Regions from separate parts of the Homo sapiens genome. Here region 1 is linked to region 2. Evidence: fine-mapped expression QTL. A gene starts in region 2. The other region holds a variant in brackets. All regions are shown on one strand. Distances are from middle to middle. Region 1 overlaps LRP1 (LDL receptor related protein 1). Region 2 holds the start of STAC3 (SH3 and cysteine rich domain 3).

Region 1 (8,999 bases), 97 kb after region 2:
GATTTGGGGCAGAACTCGTACAGCTCAGAATCCTTCACATAGACATTAAAAAGACAATGCACTGTGAACCTGCCCAAGCAGCTCAGAGGGAAGACCTGGATGCAACTCACAAAACACAATTTTCTCAGGACACATTAGCATGCAGTTTTTGGCGACTGCAAGGTCAGCTGCACAGACCCTGTGTGCGCACATACATGTGGGTGTGCCCTGTTTTGATCTGGCAGGCCTGTCTCCAATTCAAGACCTCAGTTGTCCCCTGGCTGTGTGCTGTGTGCAGCTCCAGGGCTCTAAGCCAATGCAGACAGACCCTGAGTTTTCCCAAGGGCTGGCAAGGACGGCCCATGCTGCCTAACCCATCCTAACCCTGCCTCTTTGGCTCAGCCAAGAAGGGGGTCACACAGGGGTCAATCTGTCTATCCCCTCATCTCCATGCCAACCAGTGCAGCCAGCCAGTCAGCAGGGGACCATCCTGCTGAGAGGGCACCGAGAAACAGATGCCTGGGCCCCAGCCCCCTTCCATCCCCATGGGCCACATCCCTAGGAGCCCATACCGTCCTTCAGGATGGTCTCCCGCTCAGTGCCATCAATCTTCTGGCGGCCAATGAGGTAGCTGGTGGTGTCGGCAAAGTAGATGAAGCCGGTCTCAGCGTGGAAGTCCAGGGCTCGGGGGTTCATGAGGTTTTCAATGGGGATCATGTGCTCATCCGGGACCTTGGCCCCCATATCCATGCCCCGGATGATGCCTGGCCGGCCCTTGCCATACACGAGGAACAGCTCATGCTCCGGCTCTAGAGCAGGCACAAGCCAGGGTACAGTCAGACACACACATGACCATCATCCCCACCCAGGGGCTGCGGCCAAGGGGCTGCAATGCCCTAGCTGTGATGGGTCAGGAGACGTTAGGGATGCGAGGCTCTGGGTCAGATGGACAGACCACGCACACGCTAACATACAGGACGATGGGTCCTGGCCGCAATACCCTGGGGTCTGACCTCTGCACTCCAAGGGTAGGAAATGAGGGAAGAATAGCAGGTTTTCAGCTAAGTGCCCACTGATCAGTCATGAAATCAGTGGTATAAAAGGAGTACCTTCAAAATATGTTGGAGTCACATCACTGTTTACCACTTCCTCTGCTGCCATCCTAGTGTAAACCACATCACTTCTTGCCCACTACACTGAAAGTCTTCTGGCTACTTCCCTACTGCCCATCCCCCACCCAGTAGCAGCGTGACTTTTATACAAATGTGAATCCAATCATGTCACTTCCATTCTCAAAAGTCACTATGAGCTTCCTATCCCAGATATAATAAAATCCAACCCCTGCCTCCTTCTCTGCCCTCACACCACTCAGCCCCGCTGGCCTTCGTGCTGTTCCTCTGGCTTGCCACACTCACACTGGCCTCAGGGCCTTTGCACTGTTGATTTCCTCTGCCGGACATGCTCCTCCCTCAGGGAGTTACATGGTTGCCCTCTTCATTTCACAGAGAGCTTGGCTCAAACACCACATCCTCAGAGAGGCCCTTGCTCTCCTCATTAACTCTATTCTCTGCTTTATTTATTCATTTATTTTTAATTTTTTGAGATGAAGTCTCGCTCTGTCATCCAGGCTGGAGTGTGGTAGCGCCATCTCAGCTCACTGCAACCTCCACCTCCCAGGTTCAAGTGATTCTCCTGTCTCAGCCTCCCCAATAGCTGGGATTATAGGCACGCACCATCACACCCAGCTAATTTTTGTATTTTCAGTAGAGACGGGGTTTCACCATGTTGGCCAGCCTGGTGTGGAACGCCTCACCTCAAGTGATCTGCCTGCCTCGGCCTCCCAAAGTGCTGAGATTACAGGCATAAGCCACCACGCCTGACTATTCTCTGTTTTATTTTCTTCATAACCACTTATTACCACCTAAAGTTACATTTATTTGTTTCCCCAACTAGACTATAAGCTCCATGAGGCCAGGGACAACATCTATCTCGTTCGCTGCTTAATCCTGATGACCAGAACAGTGCCAAACATGTAGTGAGTGCTCACTGCTCACTAGACACTTGCTGAATGAATCAGTTTAGTTTTCTGCAGAGTCCGGTGGGTGAGTGAGAAAAGCACTTTTTTCGAATATGGATTCAAGTCCCATCTCTGCCCTCACTAGCAGGTACACTCTGGGACACTTCCTTCATCTCCCTGCATGTCAGACAGAGGCAGCCGGGCTGTGGGGGACACCTGAGGAACCCTCCCGCAGCCTCCCAATGGGCACACACCCCCTTCCCTGTCACTCACTCTTGCATGACTTCCCGTCACTGCCCAGGCTGAAGCCGGAACGGCAGCGGCAGGTCCGCGCCTTGTGGCTGTTGGCCAGCAGGCAGATGTCAGAGCAGCCACCCGGCTTCCCATACTGGTCGTTTTCACAGGCATGGCTCCTCACTGGGGGCAGGGTGAAGAGCTGTTAGGACCCCTCAGAGCCCCTGTGCCAGGCCTTGAGAAGGCTTCCTGAATCTGACCACACCCCCTGCTGCTGTGGTCTTTGTGCTTGCTATCCCATTTTAGGATTTGGAAGCCACAGGGGTGGAAACCCTCTGCCCCCCAACAACCCAGCCTTCAAACTCTTGGAGTGGGGGCTTCAGTAGTCAGGGAAGAGAGTTCCAGGGTTGCCCATGGCCAGGTGCTACTGCTCCAGACTGGCAAGGGGAATGGGAGGGACAGAGTGGGATCTGGAGGCTGAGTGGGTGGATGGGGGCTGGCAGGGGAAGCTGAGGGGCCAGGGCAGGTAGCCCGAGTGGCTGGCTAGGAGAATCGGTCATGACATGAAAGAAGCCAGGGTCCCCACAGGAGGGCCCAGAGAGGGGCTGTGATCCCAAGGTCCCAGAGCCATCATGGGGTAAAGCCAGCTTTGGAGGGGCCATGGAGCCCTGCTCACCTCGGGGCTGACGCCTCTGGTGGTAGATGTGGAGGGCACCACCCTTGTCCACCCGGGTGACAACCTGGTACTCGGTGCTGTTAAAGCGGTTCACACGGATCACACTCGTCTTCTGCTGGGCATTGGCATTGTCCGAGTTGGTGGCATAGAGATAATTCTCAAACACAGTCAGGCCGTACAGGTGCTCAATCTGAGACGGGCAGGCAAGAATGGACAGCATGAGATGACAGGGGTTCCTCCCTCTGTCCTGGAGATCCCCTCAGCTTCCTCCAGACTTCATGACCTGCATTCCCCAATTCATCCTGTAGTTTTTAATTTTTATTTATTTATTTTGAGACGGGACCTCACTCTGTCACCCAGGCTGAAGTGCAATGGCACGATCACGGCTCACTGCAGTCTCCACCTCCTGGGCTTAAGCGGCCCTCCTGCTTCAGCCTCCTGAGTAGTTGGGACTACAGGAACATACCACCACACCTGGCTAATTAAAACAAATTTTGTGTAGAGATGGGGTTTCCCTATGTTGCTCAGGCTGGTCTCGACCTCCGAGGCTCAAGCACTTCTCCTGCCTCAGCCTCCCAAAGTGCTGGGATTACAGGTGTGGGCTACCGTGCCTGGCCCCACCATTTTTTAACTCAATGCTTTACTCCTGTCTCCTCTGGCTGGACTAACCTATTCTGAAGATTTTTGCTTACCAAGATCCCACTCATCCTCTACAGAGCATGTCTTTAAAGAATTTATGGAATCTTCTAACCAGAGATGTTTTCTCCTTCTATACATCCTCCGTGACACTGCTATCTATCCGTGTCTGGCACAGTGATTTGTGGACTTATCTCACCCACTCTACTCAGACCCCTTGAGGGCAGAAACCCTGTCCTTCACAGAATTAGGCACTCGTTAGACACTTTAGTGATTTTAGACTGAATTAGAGATGGGCTCTAAACTCTGTCCACAGAGGACATTCTTAGTCTGTTATGAGGGCTAAGAGGACACACTTGCCCCAAGCAAGTCCTGTAACACCCCTGACTACCCACATAGCTTATCTGCGGTGGCCAACTGTCCTAGTTTGCCTAAGACAAAGGTAAGGGTTTGCTGGCTTACCAGACTTTCAGGGCTAAAACTGGGACAGTCCTAGGCAAACTGGGCTGGTTGCTCACACTAATTATCCCACAATGGAGATGCCACCTCTGAGCCAGCAAGGCTTCTAGA[A/C]CAAGTTCCAGTGCTATCACCCGGCTTTGTAAACACAGGCAAATCACCTAACCTCTTTGATCCTGCTTTTTCATCTGCTGAAAGGGAACTGAACCACCTCCCTGTTCATCAGCTAGGGGTTATTATAAGGGTCAAATGAGAAACAGGAAGTAAACAGAAGTGGTGTTTCTAAAATGACTGTTCCCATCACAGTGGAACCCGTATCTTGTCCTTTCTCTGCAGTATTCAAGCCCACCCCACTCCCACTAGAGGCCTGGGGCATCCACGCTCTTTACCAGGAGACTCAGAGAACGGTTCCCCTACAGAGGCTTCCCCCCTCACCAGAAGGCCCTGGATCATGGTTCCCCCACAAAACCTCAGACAGTAGCTCCCTCACCAGGATGCCCTGGATGATGGTCTGGCGGCCCTTGCCCTCATAGTCCACCACTTCAATATAGTCCAGATAGGCATCTGCCCAGTAGACAAGGCGGCTGACCAGGTCCAGCGTGATGCCATGAGGAAACACAATCTTGCTGTCGACGAGCTTGGTGCGGTTCTGCCCATCCATGTCACAGCGTTCCACCTTTGGGATCTGCCCATAGTCAGTGAAAAACACCTTCCTGTGGGAAGATGCATGTTAAATGGGGTCTGGACATTGGGCACCCTCCTTACCACTGTAGCCTCAGCCTCCCACCTTCCAGGGCCAGAACCCCGCCTGCCACTCTCACCCCATGGCAGGGTCCAGGGCAATGCCCTTGGGGTTGTAGAGTTCCAGGTCTAGCAATGTGACACATGTGTCCCCATTTCTGTTGCAGACAAAGATCCTATCATCGATGTCATCCACAAAGTAGAAGTTGCCTGTCAGCCAGTCGATGGCCATCTGTTCCACGTCTGGAGAGTACGAATGAAAGAGCCATGGGGTGGGGTAGGCCCTCTTGCAGAGATGCCCACCCTTTGCTGGTGAGAACCCACACCTGGAAGCCCACCTTCTCTGGACGCCCTCCCACCCAACACCCCCATGCTTAGCTCAGAGTGGATATACAGGAGGGCTTGCGTAAATGCTGGCTGGCTGGTTGACTGACAGACTTCCCAATTCTAGCCCATCCTTGAAAAGGGACCATCTTCTTGGGGCACCAAAAGGTAGAGAGCACAGGTCCACTAGCTCAGTCCAGTTTTTTTTTTTTTTTAACTTTGCTTTTACTTGGGATAAGAGCACTGAGGCTACCAAAACATTACACATCTTTGCTTTTCACTGGACTTTTATCTACCATCTACAGTAAATCTAGTTATCTCATGCTAACCAGAAGCACTGACTGGAAGCTGGACATATGGCATAAATTTTTAAAGTGGAAAAGCAGGGTACACGCTAATAAACCCAGTTTGGGAGAAAAGTATTTCAAAATATGAACTCTACAGAGATGCCAAAGGGAAGATCCATGGGGGCAAAAGGTTGGGCACCAGTGACATGGGCCAAACTTCCTCTACTCAGCCCCAGTCCCCTGTTCCTGCAATGTCCTTATTGCTCAATGTCCTCATGTCCTGGGGAGGGTCAGAAGAGGTGGGGAATAAGTCATAGGGCTGGAGGAGAGAGAGTCTAGGAGGAGGGCCATGAAAGAATCCTCAGGGCAAACTGAGGCATGGCTCAGAAAGAGATGGGGCTTAAGGATGATGGGAGTGGGGGAAGGAGATGGAGCCCAGCTGCCTAGACTCAGTTTCAGGCATGGTTCTGGAGGAGATGGAAGAAGCCAAGAAGAGCCAAAGGAAAGAGAGGCAGGGCAAGGGTGGCCGGAAGTCAAGGAGGCAGGAAGTCTGGGGACAGGGACACATGCTGGCCTCCTCTGGGCTCCTCCTCTCCAGGACCACTGGCTTCCTTCCATCTACTCACTACCCCCTTCAACTACCACCATCAGAGATGGTGCCTCTTGCAAACTGGGAAACTCCTAAGGCAGTGACTTTCTGGGACCCCTGCCTGGAACTCCATCTCCAACAGTTTCCCCAACAAGTAAAGAAATCTTTGGGCTACCTGCTTTGGGCTGAAACTCATCCTCCATTACCCATACTCAACCCAGTAGGGATTCTTCTGCCCCCACACAGCTACAGGTATAATGACTTGCTGTTCTGCTTGACCCCTCCCTAATTCCCCCTCCTCCCCACAGGGATTCAGGGGCTGCTCCCTAACAGTGGGTGAGGGTGGGGTGGGGGCAAAAAGAACAGGAACGCCGCTCTCAAGGAACTTGGCTGGGCCCTGACACTGACTCAGAGTCACAGGACAGGAAGGGAAGGAGCCAACTGAGGGCTTCATCAAACTAGTTTCTTCTTCAGGTCCTCTCTGCTAAATCCCATCCCAATGCCTGGAGAACAAGGCCACAGAGACGAGGTATTACCCCCGTAAGTATTCATGCATCCCCAAGCCCAGCCACTCTTTCCTCTGGGCCCCCAGTACTGTCCCATCCTCACAAGATTGGAGAGAGGGGGAAGAGTAGCTTGAGGAGGCCAAGGCCCTGTAGGAAGAGGGCCTAGTGCAGGGGTAAGGCAACCAAATTCTTTGCCCCACACGCTGTAACCACAGAGAAAACAGATTCAAATGAATGCTGCTGGGCTGCCTCCAAAGGAAATCGAAGTCTCAAAGCAGGGACCTGCCTGCATCCCCTGGCAGCCAGCAGGGTGGCTGGAAGTCAAACAGGGCTGCGTGCCCTTTACTTGGTGGGCACGGCAGGGGTCTGGGGGCTGCTGGCATGTGTATGAACTTCATCAGTGAAAGCTGTTTTCCCAGCACCAGCTGGCGCAGCTACGGCCGGCCTTCTCTCCGACTTCCTGAGGCTTCCCTGAGTCACTGCCCAGCCCTAGGGCTGGCAATACCCTGCCCCTGCTCCCCCTATCCACCCTTCTCTTGGCAAGAGAGAGAAGGAAGAAACCTGCAGAGATCTGATGCCGCTATCCCAGGTGCAGCTCCACAATCAGCCCCCCCAGCCTCAGGATGTGGCCTGGATTCCCTCCCAATTCCGGGAAGGAAGGCAGAGAGATCATCCCTGCTCTCAGATATTTACCCTTGGCCGGTCTCCCTTCCACCTCCCCAAAGGCCAGGCAGGGCCCCACTCAGCAGGCCGGTGAGGAGTTGGCAAGAACTGGAGTCCTCGGCCTGCCTGGCCTCCCCTTTGGTATTTTTGCAGCTGGAGACTATTAGTTGCAAGCAAAAATCCTTTGTTATCCAACCCCCTGCACCACATTATTTTTCTCTCTCCTAAAGTTCAGATTCCTCTGCCTGCCCCACCACACACACACGCACATACGCACGTATGCACACACAAATGCACGCACAATCACACACACACACATACACTTGGCCACCACTCCAAGGCCAGTGTAGAGAGATGGGCTCAAAGGGAGAGGAGGAACCTTGCCTCCAGGGCTGCCCTATAGGCAGTATCTGGGCCACCCCTCTCTGTCTTATGAATTGGGGTCCAGGTGGAGTCCTGGGCTTCAGCCCAGAGATCCTGAGCATTCTGGCTCCACCAACCCTGAGGGGAGCCGTCCCCTTGTCGCCCAGCCTTCTAAGGGCCAACCACCTGAGCGCACCTTCTGAAGAGGCTCTGGCCAAAGGCCGAAAATCCTGAGGACAGGAGAATCTCAAATAAACCAAAGGGGAGAGAGGGAGGCTGTGTTGTGGAAGGAGTTGGGGGTGGTCTAGGGGCAGAGGGGCAGGGGATTCCAGCATGAAGAGGGAGGCTAGGAAGCAGGGAAGAGGTGCAGGAGTCAGACGAGAGACCACAGCTGCCCATTATGGCACAGAGGACTTTCAGTTCCAGGCCCCAGAATAGACCTGGTGTCCTGGCACCCCATCCCACTGCTCAGCATCTGCACTCACTACAACTCCAGCTTTTCTCAACTTCTCCATCATTCCCATTGTTCAAGAGGCATTTCCATACATGGTGGCTGCTTTCCCAAACACATGGGACCCACCCCATGCCCAAAAAGACTCTAGCTTCAGCTGCAGGATTCTAGTCACCTGCTCTAAAATAAGGAAATCGGAAGGAAGGAAGAAGCCTTTATGTCCTGAGAAAATGTCACCCAACACATCTACACACCCAAGAGTGTATACACATCCAAAGAGGTCCCTGGACCTCTATCCACATCCCCAGGGAGCACACTAGATTCTGGCCCTTGTTCCAGGAACCTCCCCACCTCTCCTCATATCATTCTGCTCTGCCCTGGGTCCAACTGGGCCCTAGACACTGACAGCCTGAGTTTGAATTCTGGTTCTGTCACCTTCCAACTGAGGCTATGAGCAAGTTACTTAATGCCTCTGAGTCTCTGTTTCCTCATTTGTAAAACTGGATGGTACACTAACTGCACTTAGCATGAGGCCTGGTGCATGATAAACACTCCCCACATGGGGGCTGCGGTTCCCACCATGTCCTCCCCTCCCTGAACCCATCCTTTCCCACCTTTTCCACCAAGTCGCCCTCTGTGCCTCCAGCCAGAGCCCTGTGGCCTCCTGACTCTAGGTGGGCCCTCCAGGTGGGCCATTTGGGGCTAACACCTACTACTCGTCAAGACTCGGCTCAGGCTCCCAGAAGGAAGCTTGCCCTATTAGAAGGAAGTTTTCAAGGCCAGGCTCAGTGGCTCACGCCTGTAATCCCAGCACTCTGGGAGGCTGAAGCAGGTGGATCATGAGGCCAGGAGATCGAGACCATCCTGGCTAACATGGTAAAACTCTGTCTCTACTAAAAACACAAAAAATTAGCCAGGCGTGGTGGCGGGCACCTGTAGTCCTAGCTACTCGGGAGCCTGAGGCAGAAGAATGGCGTGAACCCGGGAGGCAGAGCTTGCAGTGAGCCAAGATTGCATCACTGCACTCCAGCCTGGGCGACAGAGTGAGACTCCATCTCAAAAAAAAAAAAAAAAAAA
Region 2 (8,999 bases):
CACAATTATGGGAGTTGCCTCTTATTAACAAAGAGTTTTCTAATTAGTGTCCTGTCCCTAATCTACGACATCTACCTTTGGTAGTCCTAGACCCAGTTTAGGAGAAGATTGGTAGAGAATATGGGGGAGAAACTCTCGTCCTACAAGCCTCCCACTAGGTGAACAAGATCTGTCTTGGGATTTGGAGCAATTTCCTAAACAAGGAAAGGAAGGGAAACTTGACTTCCTGAGATGATAAGAAGGAAGAATCTATTTGAGCCAGCCTCTGAGTGGGAAGGGAACTATGGAACATATTTCAGATTGATACATTATTGTTAAAGAACATTAGCAAAAGCCACATTTTCTTCATAGCAGTAGCACCTTGTGAGAGAACTGAGGTATAGGTTCTTAGCTCAGAAACCCAGGATTCTGATTCCCTGTCCCTTCTTTCCTGTATCTCTGGGCTAGGAGAATAGAAAGGTTCATTTGTTTTTCTCCTAGTTGCCCTGATCAGAGCTGGGATGGTGGGGAGGGGAAGAAAGGGCTAAGAGAGAAAGGCCAGGCTTTTGAAGACATTGTATACAGACTTAGTCAGCTGGACACTTCTCTGCTGGGCTGCTGTCAAGTCCTTCCTGTCCTATTCCTCTCACAACCATGTCCTCTCTCCTCCCCTTCCAGTCCTGGGGCGGGTGCTGGAGGTGACAGATCTCCCTGAGGGCATCACCCGTACTGAGGCGGACAAACTCTTCACGCAGCTCGCCATGTCTGGCGCCAAGATCCAGTGGCTCAAGGATGCTCAGGGGCTGCCTGGAGGGGGTGGGGGGGACAACAGTGGGACTGCTGAGAATGGCCGCCACTCGGACCTCGCTGCCTTGTACACCATTGTGGCTGTGTTCCCCAGCCCCCTGGCTGCCCAAAATGCCTCCCTTCGTCTCAACAACTCCGTGAGTCGCTTCAAACTTCGAATGGCCAAAAAGAACTATGACCTGAGGATCCTGGAGCGAGCCAGCTCCCAATAAATGGAGGAGGGGAAAGGGACTGTCACAGAAGGAGCAAGGGCAGGGTGGAGGGGGTTGAAGGATCCTGACAGACCATGGACAGAGGCAGGAAGTAAGGAAACTGATGTTAAACTGGAACCTAAGACAGTGATGAAGATGGAAACACAGATACCTACACTGGCATTGGACTCCTTCTTGCTCCCCTGCCATGGGTCCTCTCTTTTTCCCTGGTTGACCCCCCTTGCATCACTCTTCTTCCCATCCTCTTCTTTTTTTTTTTTTTTTTTTTTTTGAGACGGAGTTTCGCTCTTGTCACCCCAGCTGGAGTGCAGTAGCACGATCTTGGCTAACTGCAACCTCCAGCTCCTGGGTTCAGGTGATTCTCCTGCCTCAGCCTCCCAAGTAGCTGGCACTACAGACACGCGCCACCATGCCCGGCTAATTTTTGTATTTTTAGTAGAGACGGAGTTTCACCATGTTGGCCAGGCTGGCCTCAAACTCCTGACCTCAGGTGATCCACCTGCCTTGGCCTTCCAGAGTGCTGGGATTACAGGCGTGAGCCACTGTGCCTGGCTTCCATCCTCTTCTATCATTTTTTTAAATCTCTTCTCCTATCATAAAATTAATTTCTCATTTTTTGGTCAGGTAGAATTGGGAAAGTCCCACACTGTCCTCCTATTACCTTAACATCCCAAGCTTCCTTTCCTTTTTTGGTCTTTATGAATATATTTATATGGACAGAATTAAGATAAACAAAATTGATTGCCCCATTCTCTCACTTCCCCATCTTGTCTTCCTAGACCCCACAGAGTTAAAACTTGGGATTCCCCTGGCCCCCCCAGAACACTTGTATATTGTTTGTTTGAGGTTCGTGCCGCAGTAACAGACACAGTATTTAATTGCACATACAGATGTTTGCTGGGTATATTCACTGTAAATTTTATTTAATCTGTTTTTTTGTTTGTTTGGGGGTTATTTGGGGGGAGGTTGGTTTTGTTTTTAAATATAAAAAAAAAAATCTGTCACTGGACATCAGTCACTGTTTCTCTGTTGCCGCCCTGGTATGGGTAAAGGGTTGGAGGCCCTGGGTAGGTATAGCCCTACAGCTGTTGGAGGTGTTTGTCGTGGGTTGGGATGGCTTTCTCTAGCATACGCACACTATTTTAACACCATTCCCTCTGTCTCATCCTCTTCCCTGTACACGGTTCTGATAGATGGCTAGATCTCTAATGGGACCATGGCTTTGGGCTCTCCCGGTTCTGCCACTGTGGTTCATCGAGCATATCACTTCTCAACTCTGGATCTGTGTCCAGATCAGTAAAATAAGAGACTTGGACTTAGTAGGTGACCTCTAGGTTTCCTTCCAGACTATTAATTCTGTGGTACTGTGTACTCATTTAGGGCCCTTGTAGTTGAGTTTTGAGATAGGGTCTTGCTCTGTCACCCAGGCTGGAGTGCAGTGGCAGATCTCAGCTGACTGCAGCCGCCTCCCGTGTTCAAGCGATTCTTGTGCCTCAGTCTCCCGAGTAGCTGGGATTACAGGCGCGATCTAGCATGCCTGGCTAATCTTTTTTTTTTTTTTTTTTGCTATTTTTGGCAGAGACAGGGTTTTACCATGTTGCCCAGGCTGGTCTTGAACTCCTGGGCTCAAGTGATCTCCCGCCTTGGCCTCCTAAAGTGCTGGGATTACAGGCATGAGCCACCACTCCCAGCCCAGCTCGTCTTCTGAAAACCCTTTAGGGATGGAGAACTTGGGCCTTTCTTTTTTTTTTTTTTTTGAGATGGAGTCTCGCCCTGTTGCCCAGGCTGGAGTGCAGTGGCGCGATATCTCGGCTCACTGCAACCTCCACCTCCCGAGTTCAAGCAGTTCTCCTGCCTCAGCCTCCTGAGTAGCTGTGCCCCATCGTGCCCAGCTAATTTTTGTATTTTTAGTTGACATGGGGTTTCACCATGTTGGCCAGGCTGGTCTCGAACTCCTGACCTTGTGATCCACCCGCCTCGGCCTTCCAAAGTGCTGTGATTACAGGCGTGAGCCACCGTGCCTGGCTGCCTTTCTTTAATCCTAAAGCTGGAGGATTGGGTTTTACCTGTCAGGGACAGAAGCAGATTTTTATTACAATGAAAGCTACAGCAACTGAACTCGCAGTGCCAAGATGCTGTATTATCCAAACATGCTCAGCAGTCCCTGTCCTATGTGGCTGAAAAAAGACGAAGAGCAGAAGTCATCTTGCCTGCAAGATGGAGCTTTTCCTTTAGAGCATCTCAAAGCAAGCCCTGTTGTTCTGCAGCCTGTCAGAGCAGGGCCATTAAAGAACCTGCAGAGTCAGAACCATCCTGCACCCCCTTTTCAAACTCCCCCCTTAAATAGAAAAAAGTAGTGGGTGAGAATGACAAAGCACGTTGCCCTGGAAATCTCTTGGGTCCAAGTAGCTGTATCCCTAACGACGATCCTACAGGAGCTTGCCTGACCCAGTCTCCAACACAGTCCTTTATTTCTTACAGATACAAGGAATAGAGCAGCACTGCATTGCCACCTCTAAATTGCTCTCCCCTGAGATGGGAGTATCTCCTCTTTCATCCATGTCACAGCCCAAAGAGTAGAAGGGTGCACCCCTGTGAGATGAGAATGGCATCTGTCTCTTTGATCCATCAGTTATATACTGAGGCATCAAAGGTGGGAGATGGAATCAGGGAATCAAAAGGGTTTAGGAAGTGTGAGGGTTGGCCATCCTACCTTTAAGAGTTTGCAGTTCTCATGAGGAAGGGGACATTACTTAGAAATGATTTAAAAAATTCCTTATGTGGCAGCTATATGCTTCTGTCCAGTGTTAACTGGCCCTTTTTAATAGCCCTGGTAATTCCCTTCAGTCTGAGGACAAAATTTTACAAGAAGGAGGGTGGGGAGATGTCTCTGGGAGCTGCTGGAGGGAATGAAGCAATACTACATATTCTTCACTTTCTTACAGGATAGCAAAGTACTCCTCCAACCACCTACAGATAAAAAGCAATCTAGCCATGCACGGTGGCTCACACCTGTAATCCTAGCACTTTGGGAGGCCAAGGCAGGCGGATCACCTGAGGTCAGGGGTTCGAGACCAGCCTGGCCAACATGGTGAAACCCCATCTGTACTAAAAATACAAAAATTACCTTGGCGTGGTGGTGGGCGCCTGTAATCCCAGCTACTTAGGAGGCTGAGGCAGGAGAATCGCTTGAACCTGGGAGGTTGCAGTGAGCCCGGATCGCTTCATTGCACTCCAGCCTGGGCAACAAGAGCAAGACTCTGTCTCAAAAAAAAAAAAAAAAAAGCCATCTAGTATGGCTGATAGGAGAGCTCTATGAGTTCAAATTAGTCTTTTTTTACCCTGTCTCAAAAAATAAATGAAAAATAAAAATAAACTCCCCTTAAATGTTAAATGAGCATGAACAGAAACTGTCCCTTCCTGAATTCAGCCATTATTCACCTGTTCGCCTTAGATGAAGAATCAAGGAACAGCAGCTCTAGGGGGTTGGGAGGAGTTAGGGTCCGGCCCTGCCCCAGACCTCTCAGTGTCCAATTTCTCTGTGTCAGCTGTGTTTCTCAGCTGTCCACTTTCCTCCAGCCCTGTCATTTCAGCCCTGACACCAAGGCAGGAGGCTAGGAGGTCTACAAATAGCGACTGGGTAGCTGGTGTGAACACAGGGGGTACTGGGGGGGCTTAGCCCCCAAGGAAGAGGACCAGTTTTTCCCCAGCACCACCATCAAGGCCTCGAGGCTCCCAGCTCCCTCTACAGCCTGTGGACTGACTTAGGGAATCCCGAACGTAAGTTACCTCTTCATCCTCTTGATTTCCACGACTGCTCACCCCAGCTGCCCTGATCTATAATCTACTCAGCTTCTTCATTTCTCTCCTTGTCTGTGAGTCTTTTGGGTTTTAGGCGTAAAATTATTATTCTACTCTAGGATGAGTTTGGATTGAAGCGGGGGGTGGGGGTGGGGGTGGGGTGAAGGGAATGAAGTAGTAAGGGAAGGAAAGGCTCATATTACCCTGAAAACTTAAAATAGCTGAGCCCTGAGGCAGGCTGGGACAGAACTAGGCACAGGGCCCCCAGGGCTCAAGAAAAAAGTAGGGGAGGACAAATGTCTCCAGTCCATCCTTCCTTGTGTGCACACGAGGACACACATTAAACCTCTTGAAGAGAGGAGATCTGGGAAGGTATGCATCACATCTCTGTTGCCCACAGATTTCCAGGAGAAACAAAGTACCTATAGGAAAATGACGTAAACCACGCAGCTTTGAACACTGTGTAAGGGCTGTAAACTATGGGGTCGCCCCTCAGGATGGAAGGATGAGTATCAGTTTGAGGAACTAATTGGGAAGCTCTTTAGTCTGTTGGGCTTTTTTTTTTTTTTTTTTTTTTTTTTTGAGACGAAGTCTTGCTCTGTCACCCAGGCTGGAGGGCAGTGGCACAATCCCGGCTCACTGCAACCTCCGCCTCCCGGGTTCAAGCGATTATCCTTCCTCAGCTTCCTGAGTGGATGGGATTACAGGCGTCCGCCACCACACCCGGCTAATTTTTATATATTTAGTAGAGATGGGGTTTCACCATGTTGGCCAGGCTAGTCTTGAACTCCTGATCTCTAGTGATCCGCCTGCCTCAGCCTCCCAAAGTGCTGGGATTACAGGCATGCACCACCACACCCGGCCATGTTAAGCTTTTTTCTAGACCTCCATGAAATCTGTTAATAAAACCTGCCAAAGGATCTGTATTTGGCCCAGTGCAGTGGCTCACGCCTGTCTCAACAATTTGGGAGGTTGAAACAGGAAGATTGCTTGAGCTAGTTCGGGACCAGCCTAGGCAACAAAGCAAGACCATGTCTCTACAAAAAATAAAAAAGTAGCCAGGTAGTGTGCACCTTGTGTTCCAGCTACTCAGGAAGCTGAGGTAGGGGGATCGCTTCAGGCTGGGAGGTCGAGGCTGCAGTGAGCCATGATCACGCCACTGCACTCCAGCCTGGGTGACAGAGTGAGACCCCATCTCAACAGTAACAACAGCAAAATCTCTCATCACATTTCTCCGAAAGCCTCCCCTTTGAGGACCACCCTACTGCAAGGGACAGAAAGGGAGAGAAGAATGAAAGGGATTAGATTTCATAGTGGGGTCCAACCTCTTGCAGGATGACAGAAAAGGAGGTGCTGGAGTCCCCTAAGCCCTCCTTCCCAGCAGAGACTCGGCAAAGTGGGGTGAGTCTGGGCCTCTGACCACTGGGTGTGGGGGGCTGGGAAGCCATTACAGCTGAAGAAGAGTGCTTAAATTGATCTCATTTGTGTGTGACTCATTTTTTGCTGGCCAGCACCTGCAGTCCCCAATACCAATACCCCCCTAATCCTGGGGTACATTCCTTGCCTGAAACTAGAAAACTGTCTAGTTTGCTCTAGCGCCCCCCTACTCTAGAGAGGGTGACAAGTCCTTTTAACATTGGGTTTTCTTCACTCCCTCCCTCAGCTACAGCGGCTAAAGCAGTTACTCAGGAAGGGTTCTACAGGGACAAAGGAGATGGAACTTCCCCCAGAGCCCCAGGCCAATGGGGAGGCAGTGGGAGCTGGGGGTGGGCCCATCTACTACATCTATGAGGAAGAGGAAGAGGAAGAAGAGGAGGAGGAGGAGCCACCCCCAGAACCTCCTAAGCTGGTCAACGATAAGCCCCACAAATTCAAAGATCACTTCTTCAAGAAGCCAAAGTTCTGTGATGTCTGTGCCCGGATGATTGTTCGTGAGTCATGAAGGGAAGTGAAGAGAGTATGATATTGAAGGCAGAGGTTTGGGGAGAGGGCATAGGAGAGGAGTATTTGTAGCAGATGGGCTGTGGCTAGAGTTGGTGTAAGGCAATGCTATTAGAGATTGAGCAAGTAGGGTCCCAGACAGAAAAGGAAACCTAAGAGTAGCAGCAGTGGTACAAAGGGAAAGGGCAATCTGGAACCTTATCTGAATTTTCTCCCCCTTTCCCAAGTCAACAACAAGTTTGGGCTTCGCTGTAAGAACTGCAAAACCAACATCCATGAACACTGTCAGTCCTATGTGGAAATGCAGAGATGCTTCGGCAAGATCGTGAGTAGGCTGTGGAGAGCAAGGAGGGGACATGGCCACGCGTGGTGGCTCACGCCTGTAATCCCAGCACTTTGGGAGGCTGAGGTGGGCGGATCACGAGGTCAGGAGATCGAGACCATCCTGGCTAACACAGTGAAACCCCGTCTCTAAATACAAAAAATTAGCCGGGCGTGGTGACAGGTGCCTGTAGTCCCAGCTACTCAGGAGGCTGAGGCAGGAGAATGGCGTAAACTCGGGAGGCGGAGCTTGCAGTGAGCCGAGATTGTGCCACTGCACTCCAGCCTGGGTGACAGAGCGAGACTCCGTCTCAAAAAAAAAAAAAAAAAAAGAGGGGACATGTCACCAGCCAGCTACCCCTTGCTGGTCTCTCCTCCATCCCATTCATTTCTCTGCTTTTTCTTTCTCAGCCCATCTCTTTTTCTGAGAAAGGGTGAGCACTCCTGGGAGAGATAGGCTTCTGGACCTTACTTTGCTACCTCTAATGCTTCCTCTCATCCCATCCTACAGCCACCTGGTTTCCATCGGGCCTATAGTTCCCCACTCTACAGCAACCAGCAGTACGCTTGTGTCAAAGATCTCTGTAAGTGCCCTTTATGGAACATGAGGGAATGGGCAAGCCTAGAGATGGTTTCATGCCATCTCTAGCTTTGGGAGCCAAATTCTGAAACAGAAACTTTCTGTTTCCCATAATTCTCCCTCAACCTCACATTTTTATATCCATTTGGATGCAGAGGCAATATCCCCATTTTACAGCAGAGGGAGATACGATTTAGTTGCAACTACATACAGTTAGCAAGAGGTAGAGCCAAGACTGGAATCTTCAGTTGCTAGCTTCAGAATCTGTGCTCTTTGTGTGCAAAATCATTTCTAAGCAAGAACAAGGATTCTAGATTGTCCTCATCCTTACTACAGAGTCATATCAGACTCGGGGCAAGACCCAAAGGCTGCAGGCACCCTGGGCAGGTTCATAATTTGGCAACCCAGGCCGGGCGCGGTGGCTCACGTTTGTAATCCCAGCACTTTGGGAGGCCGAGGCGGGTGGATCACGAGGTCAGGAGATCGAGACCACGGTGAAACCCCGTCTCTACTAAAAACACACAAAAATTAGCCGGGCGTGGTGGCAGGCGCCTGTAGTCCCAGCTACTCGGAGAGGCTGAGGCAGGAGAATGGCATGAACCCGGGAGGCGGAGCTTGCAGTGAGCCGAGATTGTGCCACTGTACTCCAGCCTGGGTGACAGAGCGAGACTCCGTCTCAAAAAAAAAAAAAAAAAAAAAAATAATAATAATAATAATAATAATAATTTGGCAACCCTTAAAAACATATTCATTGACAAATTTGCTCAACATTTATTTGGAGGAGAGGCTGAACTCTGTGAAGAGCATGGGTGAAAAAGAAGAACCTATTGGTGGCAGCACCTCAGCTTACACATGCCATTTAGCAGAACAAAAGCCAGCAGTTAAGGGCCCATTCTCCTTAGAAGGAGAATAGTGATTCTGCGCATGTCTCAGCTCCCAAGCAAGCAAAGTTGTGTTTCAAACATCATATAATGCTCTGCCTGGAAGGAGTTCTAATAAATACTTTCCTCCCTCACTTTACATCACCAGTGATGTTTTTAAAGTCCTTTATAGATTGGTGTCCTGGGTATTGCCTAGCTGACCCTTCCCTAATCTTCCCCGCGGCGCCCCCACCGCCACCCAACACACACATGGGTATCCATCTACTCAATCCCACCTCTCCCTTCCTTTCCTCCAAGCCTTTCTCTGCCTTCCCAATAATGTCTTCTTTCTCCTCCCATTCGATTAGCTGCTGCCAATCGCAATGATCCTGTGTTTGAAACCCTGCGCACTGGGGTGATCATGGCAAACAAGGAACGGAAGAAGGGACAGGCAGATAAGAAAAATGTGAGCACTGTACCTCCCCACGAGGTCCCTCC

The links.
Region 1: its variant is fine-mapped to the expression of STAC3 in whole blood (TOPMed, PIP 0.98).

The regions. Positions count from the first base shown.
Region 1 is chr12:57,150,191-57,159,189 of GRCh38, reverse strand. LRP1 (LDL receptor related protein 1) reads right to left here. Exons shown (of 89, transcript NM_002332.3): 7 at 4,820-4,982; 8 at 4,489-4,711; 9 at 2,907-3,096; 10 at 2,270-2,413; 11 at 552-788. Among named protein-coding and RNA genes, the nearest start is that of LRP1-AS, 7.1 kb to the right of the region's middle. The variant A/C (reference allele first, on the strand shown) is at 4,113.
Region 2 is chr12:57,246,772-57,255,770 of GRCh38, reverse strand. It overlaps STAC3 (SH3 and cysteine rich domain 3), which reads left to right and starts at 4,584. Exons shown (of 12, transcript NM_145064.3): 1 at 4,584-4,778; 2 at 6,134-6,200; 3 at 6,463-6,730; 4 at 6,968-7,065; 5 at 7,573-7,645; 6 at 8,870-8,967. The coding sequence starts at 6,135. It overlaps R3HDM2 (R3H domain containing 2), which reads left to right. Exons shown (of 24, transcript NM_001394031.1): 24 at 658-2,007. The coding sequence ends at 998. RefSeq lists an enhancer at 6,814-6,873.